Linked DNA regions of Homo sapiens: region 2 is linked to region 1. The links come from fine-mapping of genetic effects on gene expression. A gene starts in region 1. The other region holds a variant in brackets. All regions are shown on one strand. Distances are between the middles of the regions. Region 1 holds the start of TMEM18 (transmembrane protein 18). Region 2 has its middle 22 kb from the start of TMEM18-DT.

Evidence for each region. PIP is the estimated chance that this variant, and not a neighbour inherited with it, causes the effect.
Region 2: its variant is fine-mapped to the expression of TMEM18 in sigmoid colon (GTEx, PIP above 0.99).

The regions. Positions count from the first base shown.
Region 1 is chr2:675,224-679,613 of GRCh38, forward strand. It overlaps TMEM18 (transmembrane protein 18), which reads right to left and starts at 2,183. Exons shown (of 5, transcript NM_152834.4): 1 at 2,066-2,183; 2 at 287-407. The coding sequence starts at 2,122. It overlaps TMEM18-DT (TMEM18 divergent transcript), which reads left to right and starts at 2,149. Exons shown (of 3, transcript NR_183417.1): 1 at 2,149-2,250. RefSeq lists enhancers at 1,458-2,223, 2,126-2,225, 2,256-2,325 and a silencer at 1,716-1,965.
Region 2 is chr2:653,222-657,611 of GRCh38, forward strand. No RefSeq gene overlaps it. Among named protein-coding and RNA genes, the nearest start is that of TMEM18-DT, 22 kb to the right of the region's middle. The variant C/T (reference allele first, on the strand shown) is at 2,367.

The sequences.
Region 1 (4,390 bases):
AAGACAGCACTTCCGGAAACCCAACTCTCCTGTGTGCAGCTGGTGCTCAGCACCTCCCTGGTAGGCAACAGGAACTCAACAGATTCCTCTCAACTCTAACATCCAAAAAGTAGTTTTCTTTATAGCTTCCAAGAGTGAAAAACGGGAGTGCCCTGGGAGCAGGCACATGACAGAGGGTTGGGAGGTCTTGTAAAAATATGTATATATTTCGAAGACACAGACAGAACATACACAGTTTCATTTCACACAGTGATCTGAGTTGTGGAGTTTGTGTTGTTTTACTCACCTAGACACAGAAAGTGCCCGATCTGTAGTCTGTAGCTTCGGGAGGACAAGCAGGTGAGGAGCACGCAGAGCGCGTGGAAGGTGGCCAGCCCCATGAGCCAGGGCTCAGTCCAGTCCGTCTGCTGTAGGAACACACCAGCAGACACTCACTGTCCTGCCACTCAAGGCCGGGTTCACGGCCCACCCACAGCCTTCTCCCAGCGCAGGAGGCAGGGGCCTCTCACTCCTGAGTCCTCCTGGGCTACTCACCAAGTATCCAGAGAGCATTGCCAGGCCTCAGAGAAACATGGGGACAGGAAAGGGAGAAGGAACCAGGAGGATGGAAACAGGATTCTCCCCTCAGTGCAACTATAATTCATGGAATTCAAAGTTCAAGCACACAGAACTGAAGGCATCTCTGATGTGCTCCTTTCGTTTGTGGAACAGAATCATGTTTTTAAGGTGGGTATAATTAAAGGAATTACCATCCTTTACGATGATAATTGGTTATGATAATTGGTGACGACAAGGAAATTAAGACGATTGCTCAAAGAGATGCACTTGGCTCAGCCCCAAAGGTAAAACATGAATCATCATTTCAGACTCCTTAGTCAGCACTGAAGACCTCAGGGAATCTTGAGCCATCGCCACGTGCAAGACTTGATTTTCTCCAACCTCTCTGCAATACACTGAACTCTCCAGACAGTGCCGCACTCCGCCGCCTCCTGGACTCCCCGGGACCCTGCTGTACCTGGGGACAGTGTCTGGCTCAGGGACCTGAAGTAGCCAGGCTCAGATCCACTGCTGCTCAGTCCCCACCTGATGCTCAGATGCCAATCCCAGCAGTCCTCAACCCTCCCCATCCCCTCCTTGAGCGCCCTCCTGCAGAAGACAAGCCCTGCCCTCCAAGCTGCAGCCCCGCCCTGCCCTCCAAGCTGCAGCCCCGCCCTGCCCTCCAAGCTGCAGCCCGGCACAGCCCTCCAGAACTCCTGTGTCACTACTCTCTGCTGGGGACCGCAGCGGCTTCTCCAGAGCCGCGCCATGACATAAGGACACAAGCGCATCTACTCCCATCAATGCACCCACCAGAAGACCAGAGGCACGGAGGTGAGGGGAGCACGGCTTTCTGCCCAGACCCCATCGAGTGCCCATGTCACCCCTTGGCGGCCACGTGGGGCGTGGGCTCCCCTGGGATCTGTCAGACGAACCCGGCACGGCGCACGCCCCGCCCACACTGGGCAGCGTTCCTCCGTGCCACCCCACACGATCAGGCTCCACCACGCACGCCCCGCCGCACTGCCAGAATCCGCCCACATGGCCCAAGCCCCGCCCGCAAGACGCTGGACTGGCCGGCGTGCACCTCCCACACGAACAAAGCCCTACCCCTCGCGCTCCGCCCACACAACTCAGCCACGCCCGCACGGTGCAGGACGCCAGCCCAGCCCAAGCCCGGGCCACAGAGCGCCGGAGCCAGCTCACTGCGCACGCTCCTCCACAAGGCCCCGCCCGGCCCCGCCCCTCCCCGCCCAACGGCCCAGGACCCCGCCTAGCGCTCGCGCCCCGACGCCCGGCCCCGGCCCCCTCCCACAGGGCCCAGGACCCCGCCCACAGCGCGCGCCCCCGACGCCGGCCCCGAGCCACTCCCACAGGTCTCAGGACCCTGCCCAGCGCGCGCGCTCCGCCACAAGGCCCCGCCCACGGCCGGGGCCTTCTTGGCCACAGGCCGGGTGCTCTGTGGGGCCTACCCTACGCCTCTCCGCCGTCCTCCCCCGAACTGGTGGTTACGCGGGCCGCGAGTTACCGTGAGCACGGCTGGGATGCTGACGGGGAAAGAGCTGACAGAGAAGGCGGACGGCATGGTGTTGGGAAGCCCGCTCTCACAGCAACCGCCGAACCCGGCCTGGCCAGAATCCACAGAGGAGGGCGCCAAATCCTCTCTCGTGAGATCTGCCCTTCTCACGAAACTTGCGCTTGCTTCCTCTCGCGGTAATTTCATGGCATTGCTAGGTCCAGATATCGCGATATTTCCTGGTGGTCGCTGTAATACGGAAAACTTACTACGCTGCTGTGGGACTTGTGCTCGCTCCGCCAGGAGGCCGAGGGCGTCTTTAGTTCGTTAACAGAGGAGCAGGCGGAGGCGGGTGGAATTTAGGAGGTTTGTTTCAAAGGCTCAGGGCGCTGTACCGCCACGCCAGCCCTGTCCCACCTGGGACTCCCTAGAAGGGTCAGAGCATCAATGAGGACGGTGTCCGCCCCGAGACCCTGCAGGAGCCGGGGACATTGCCCACTCCTCGGACCCTGCAGGACTTGGGAAGGTGTCTGCTCTCGCGACCCTAAGGGCAGTGCACTCTTAGTCTGGGTCAGCTTAGGGTTATCTGTCTTCACTTTGGAGATTTACCAGATGTTCTTACGCTTCACTTCGTTGTTCAACGACAGATACAAAAATATAAAGTTAATTTTCTTCCAGCGAATTTTTTCCCTTTATTTTAACATCTATACCCCAACTTTGACATTTTCAAATTAAACATTCTGTTATTTTAACATCATGAATTATTAAGTGTATATACTTTAATTGCATATGTTAGCTCTTGAACTAGTTTAATGTTTCTAAAAATAGTTCTAGTGGTGGACTTTTTTTTTTTTTTAATAGCTTTAACCCCTCCCAGATCTTTCTTAAAATCTTTCCACAGTGTGGTCATTTCTGCTTATGCTACTTAACATGCATTCTCTCATTTCAGTGTAGAAGGTCATGGTTTCTTCTTATGGGAAAACATTTCTTTCATTGATATTTTTCTCTATTCTTCCTGTATTCAACTCCAGGAACATCCCGTTAGGTAGATAGTGCATCTTCCTCTCTTTTGTGTTTCTCAACCTTCCTCTCAAAACATCACGACTGTTGTTGCTGAGTTTGGGAAATCTCGGGCTTGGCTTTCCTGGTTTTTTTTTTTTTTTTTTAAGACGATGTCTCGCTCTGTCGCCCAGGCTGGAGCACAATGGTGGGACCTCGGCTCACTGCAACCTCCGCCTCCTGGGTTCAAGCTATTCTCCTGCCTCAGCCTCCCGAGTAGCTGGGATTACAGGTGTTCGCCACCTCACCTGGCTAATTTTTTTTGTATTTTTAGTAGAGACGGGGTTTCACCATGTTGGCCAGGCTAGTTTTGAACTCCTGACCTCAAGTGATTTACCCGCCTGGGCCTCCCAAAGTGCTGGGATTACAGGCATGAGCCACCGCACCCAGCTGGTGTGATGGTTTTCATCTGTGTCCATTCTCACTCCCCTGTGTTTGTTCAGCTATTTTCAACAGGACCTTTCAGTTACAGGGAATAGATCTGTCCTCTTCAGTTCAGCCTGTTACTGTGTATCTCCCTGATGATATTTCGTTACTATGTGAAACATCACTCTTATTAATTTCCATGGGTTAGTTTCATCGTCAGTCCTGTCTGGTGCCTGCCTTTCTTTTGTGGTGTCTGTTTTCTTGTAACTTCTGTAATTTGGGGTCAAACTCTTTTTGCTATTAATATTAACCACAGCCTATCTACGGTCACTGGGATTTTTTCTCTTCATCTTCCCCTCAGCCGCCCTCCCAGATCTTTCATATATTGTGCGCCCTGGCACCCAAGTTTCCAAAATTGTTAAAACTCTGGCCCTCAGCAGCTTCACTTTCAGTCCCAGGACATTCATCTTCCACATTCCTCCCGCCCTGCCGTTCTGAACAACGCTAGGCTGCCGGACATTTAGACGTGAAGCTTGTGCAATGTCGCCAGTCTGAGATGTGCTTTAATTTCAAACATACACCATCTTTCAAAGACTTTGTACCAAAATGTAAAATACATTATCAACAATTGTATTATTTTGCTTACATGTTGAAATTATATTTTGGACATACTGGACCAAATAAAATATATCAATAAAATTAATCTCTTTCTCTTTGCTATTTTAATGTGGCCAGTAGAACATGGCCTGCTCTCTCTGTTGGTATGTGAATGCTGACATGGACTCTATTCCATTTACCTGGAATTTTGTGCTTCCAGAAAAGACTGGATGAAGCCCCTCCCCTCCCTTCCCCTTCCCTCGCCACCCTTCTCTTCTCTTCCCTTTCCTTTTTTTTTTTTTTTTTTTTTTTTTT
Region 2 (4,390 bases), 22 kb before region 1:
CTGCTCAGCTGTCCACCTTGACCAAGGAACCCAGCACGGCCACAGAACCGACCTGAGGTGCGTAGAATGAGACCTGCAGGCTCAGCTGTCTTTCCGCAGTGTCCTCCCACATCCACACCTTCCATTTCATCGGCTCCTAAACCTCCTGCTTCTCCAATCTGGGCCTACCCCCAAGTGATGTCTTTTGAAAAATTAAAAACATATTGAACCTTAAATACAATCTTGTATGATTGCATAGTTTTCTCACAGACTGGGTACAGGCCACAGTAAGATTGCTGTAAATCAGTGGCTCTGTCAAGTCTTCCCCGTGGCTGAGATAATACAAGTGTTCATGCTTTCCTTCAACGCCTAAACGGTACGTTCCACATTGTCTAGGAGCTTGGTTCACTTCCACCTGGACTCTCAGCTAGGGGTGGGGAGCCACAGAAGGGGTGGTCAACTTCTATCACCGGCCCCAGTCTCTGCTTCCAGCTTGTGGACTTTGTATCTGTATGACCTTGACAGCTTCTTGAAACACCAGCCACAGTGCCTGGCGTGTAGTAGCCTCGCATATTTGGGTGCCAGGGAGCTGACCCACTGGAGGTGGAGGTCCTGACAGTGAGCTGAGGCTGTCCTCATGGCGTCCACTGTGGGAAGCATGGGGCACCTGGGGCCTGGGGGTTCCCATCCATTTCCCAGGGTTCGCAAAACATATGCCTCTATCTACTTCTTAATGTGGGACAAATTCCTTCTCGTACCCAAACCATGTTTCTCCATGAGGTTCTTAGATTCTCCTCCCAAGCACCCTTTTCCAGCACAAATTTATTATTTCCCTGCTGTGCTGCAGCCCCGGCTCCTCCTGGCTTCGTGCCTCACACACCTGCCGCTGTCTCCTGACCGGGTCGCAGTGTCAAGTTCTTTACACATGTGTACGTGCAGAGCGGACACACAGACACCGGAGAAGGTGGGAACACATGTGGATGTGCAGAGCGGATGCACAGACACTGGAGAAGGTGGGAGGTGGGGAGTAGCTGAGGGCTGGGGAATTGCCTGTGGGATATGATGCTCACTATTCGGGTGACAGCTGCCCCACCTTCACCACCACACAATCCATGCGTGCAAGAAATCTCCACCCATCCCCTCCAAGTATATAAACATATGATGAGAAGGAGAAACACTCTACACAGAGAATGTGACCCAACCTTGCTTCTCTGTCCACTTCCTGCTCAGCTGGCACACAGAGTAGAGCATGGGCACCTCCCAAGACCACCATGGCCTCCTGGTGAGGAGGCAACACCACGGGCTTCCAGATCTCCTTGTGTGTTCCTCAAACTCTCCTTGCCGCTGAGTGTAGGACGCTGTTTTCTGTCTTCGGTGCTCGCTCTTCTGACATCAGAGATTGACAGCACTGAGTCAGGAAGGAGAAAAGGACTCTGGCTTTGGGCCACGACAGCTCCAGATCCCATACCAACATCACTGTGGACTGCAGAATTTTTCATTTTTCTGGAAATCTCTTTTTTCATCTAAAATATGGAAATAATATCATTTACCTTACAGGGTTGTTGTGATGAAATGGTTCACTCAAAACCACTTCCCAGGAGGTTTCTGATGTAAACATGGCTCCCAGCACTGGGGCACAGGGAGGACAGGCTCTGCCCTCGGGATGCACACCTTCCAGTGTGCATTTAAGGAAGTGCAAGCGAGTTCATCAGGGAGCAGAATGAGTTTAGATAAAACTTCTGTAATATAATATAAAGTGGGGCTTCTGGGTGGAGATGAGTGGGTGACACTTTAGATGGGGGCCCAGGAAGTCCCCTCTGAGGAGGTGATGGCCGTGCAGAAGCAGATCAACATAAGCCTCAGCCAGAGGCACGCTCTGAGCAGAGGCGGAAGCCTGCTGGGGCCACTACGAGGAAAGACACTTGTTCTACAGGATCAGTGCGGGTGCAGCACTCTGAGTAAGTTACCATCCTAAAAATGAGGCTCTCCGTGGAGGCCACGTCACAAAGGTTGTCATACACGTGGTGCAGGCATTGGGTTTTATTCTGAGGACCTAAGAGCGATGGAAAATTCACCACAGCTCTGCACAGGCAAAGGAGGTTGTCAGATGATGAGATTTTCTAAGTGAAGTATTTGAGTCTCACAGAGGAACATATGTATTACACATCAAAGTTATAAAGCCTAAGAAAAAATGAACACTGTGTTGTCTATGGCAAGTAGAACATTGTCAAACCATTAAAATATACCTGGACACTCCTCCCCCAAGAGAAAACCACATAATTAATCACACAGAAAAAATCAGCAGTGGCTGATTGCATTTTCCAAAGACGGCACAAGACAAGCCCTCATCACACTTGCTCCTTCACAGTGGGACTCTGACTTTGACA[C/T]ACCTACCAGGATATGGGGTGCCGTGTCCCTGTCCTGGGTCCCAGGCAGTCTTTGTGACTTCCCCTGTGAGTGGGATGACATGGGATGAAAAAGTGATGCACCTTGTTGTCTTGAGACTTTTGTTCTTGGAACCAGCCACCTTGTTGTGAGGCAGCCCAAGAGGCCATGAGGAGGCCTGTATGGCCTGCCCTGCCATGGCCCCAACCCACAGCCCTTGCTGCTGATCAACACCAACCAGCTAGTCACAAGGGCAAGTCCATGTGGAAAGTGAAACTTCCTGCTGCCCCAAGCTGAAGTGTATGAAGCAAAGGCAAGCTGTCTCCTGGGATCTCTGCCCAAGTTACAGATCTGTGAGCAACACTGTGACTGCTGCTGTTTTCATTAGCTGAGGCTTGAGGTTGTTCATCACAAGGTACTAGTAAGTAAAAGAGATTTTGTACCAAGACTGGGGTGCAGCCATAAGAAAACCCAATGCATGTGTCCTTAGTGCTGGGAAGTGAGAGGCACCTGAGGGCCTTAAGTGTCTGTAACAGGAGATGTTCTAGATTTTCCACATTAGGGATGAAGTGCTGCGATTACTTAACTGTTTAGATAGTCTTTATTAAGTTACAAAAGTTTTCCTTTTTTCCTACTTTGTCAATAGTTTTTGCTCGATTAGTTCATTTTGTTTTTCAGTTCATGAGTTTTGAATTTTATCAAATGTTTTTTTCTGAAGCCATTGAACTCTTCACAATTGTAAACTGAGTTATGTTGTGTTTTCTCTTCAATACACAGCTGGGTTCATTTTCTTAACATAGGCAAGTTTTCCATCTGCATTTATAGAAGTTTCTATGTGTTCTTTCTTGTGCTTCTCTTGTCTAGTTTGAGAATCAAGTTTGCCACAATAAACTTAAATAATGGACTTGGTTTTGTGTGTATGTTTTTATTTTTAAATTTTATTTAAAACATTATTTTATATATATATGTATTTATTTTTTAAGTTTTTTTCTTTCTTATCTTATTTTGGATTGTTTTCTTTTTCTGTTTTCTTGTCTCTACAGATTTGATGGTTATATACTACATTCATATTTCTTTAATAGTTACTTAACAAGGCCTGAAGTTAATTAGTATCTGTCTTAACTCAGACTGCTCTAACAAACACCACAAACTGAGGGGCTTAAACACCAAAAATTTATTTTCTCACAGTTGTGGAGGCTGGGCACTGAAGATCAGGGCAGGAAGGAGGCACCCAATTTGTTTCCTGTGAGGGTTTCTCCTTGTGTTCTTCTAAGTCGAGAGCTCAGTGGTGTCTCCTCTTATCAGAACACCAGCCTGATGGGACCATGCCCCGCCCGGTGACCTCCTTCTACCCTGATGATCTCCTTATTGGAGCCACCACCAAATACAGTCCCACTGGTGGCTAGGAATGGACGTATAAATTCTGAGAGCACACGATCCAGCCCATAGCAATATCTGTAGTCTTCTCCTAAAAAGTAAAGAATAAAGAGCTTGAACAATTAGATTATGTTCAATTGTGTTCTCCTGAATTATCGGTTACTGCTGTCCAGTACTTTATCTTTCTCTCTCTCTCTCAAATGCATGTTATTATTATAATATCATTAATGTCACAATCATCATAATTTTCTGTAATGTGTTTTAGATTTAAACAAATAACCAATTCATTTTCTTCCATAACTTCTTACTTCTTTTACTATCACCTGGTAAAAGGAGGACATCTCTTAGTAGTTTCTTCAGGGAGTCTGTGTGTAGTAAACCCTCCCAATTTTCTTCAGCTGAAATGTTTTAAATTTGTTCTTATTCATGAAATATAATTTTACAGGGCACACACATCCAGGTTGACAATTATTTTCTATCAGCATTTTAAGGGATTATTCCAAACTTCTCTTAACTTTTAGTATTGCTTTTGGAGGTCTGCAGTCTACCGAATTGTCATTCTTATTAGACAGTGCCAAAGTTTTCTCTCTGTCTTACATATTTTACGTTTAGACTGGTTATTCTCAATTTTACTCCAGTATGTCCAGAT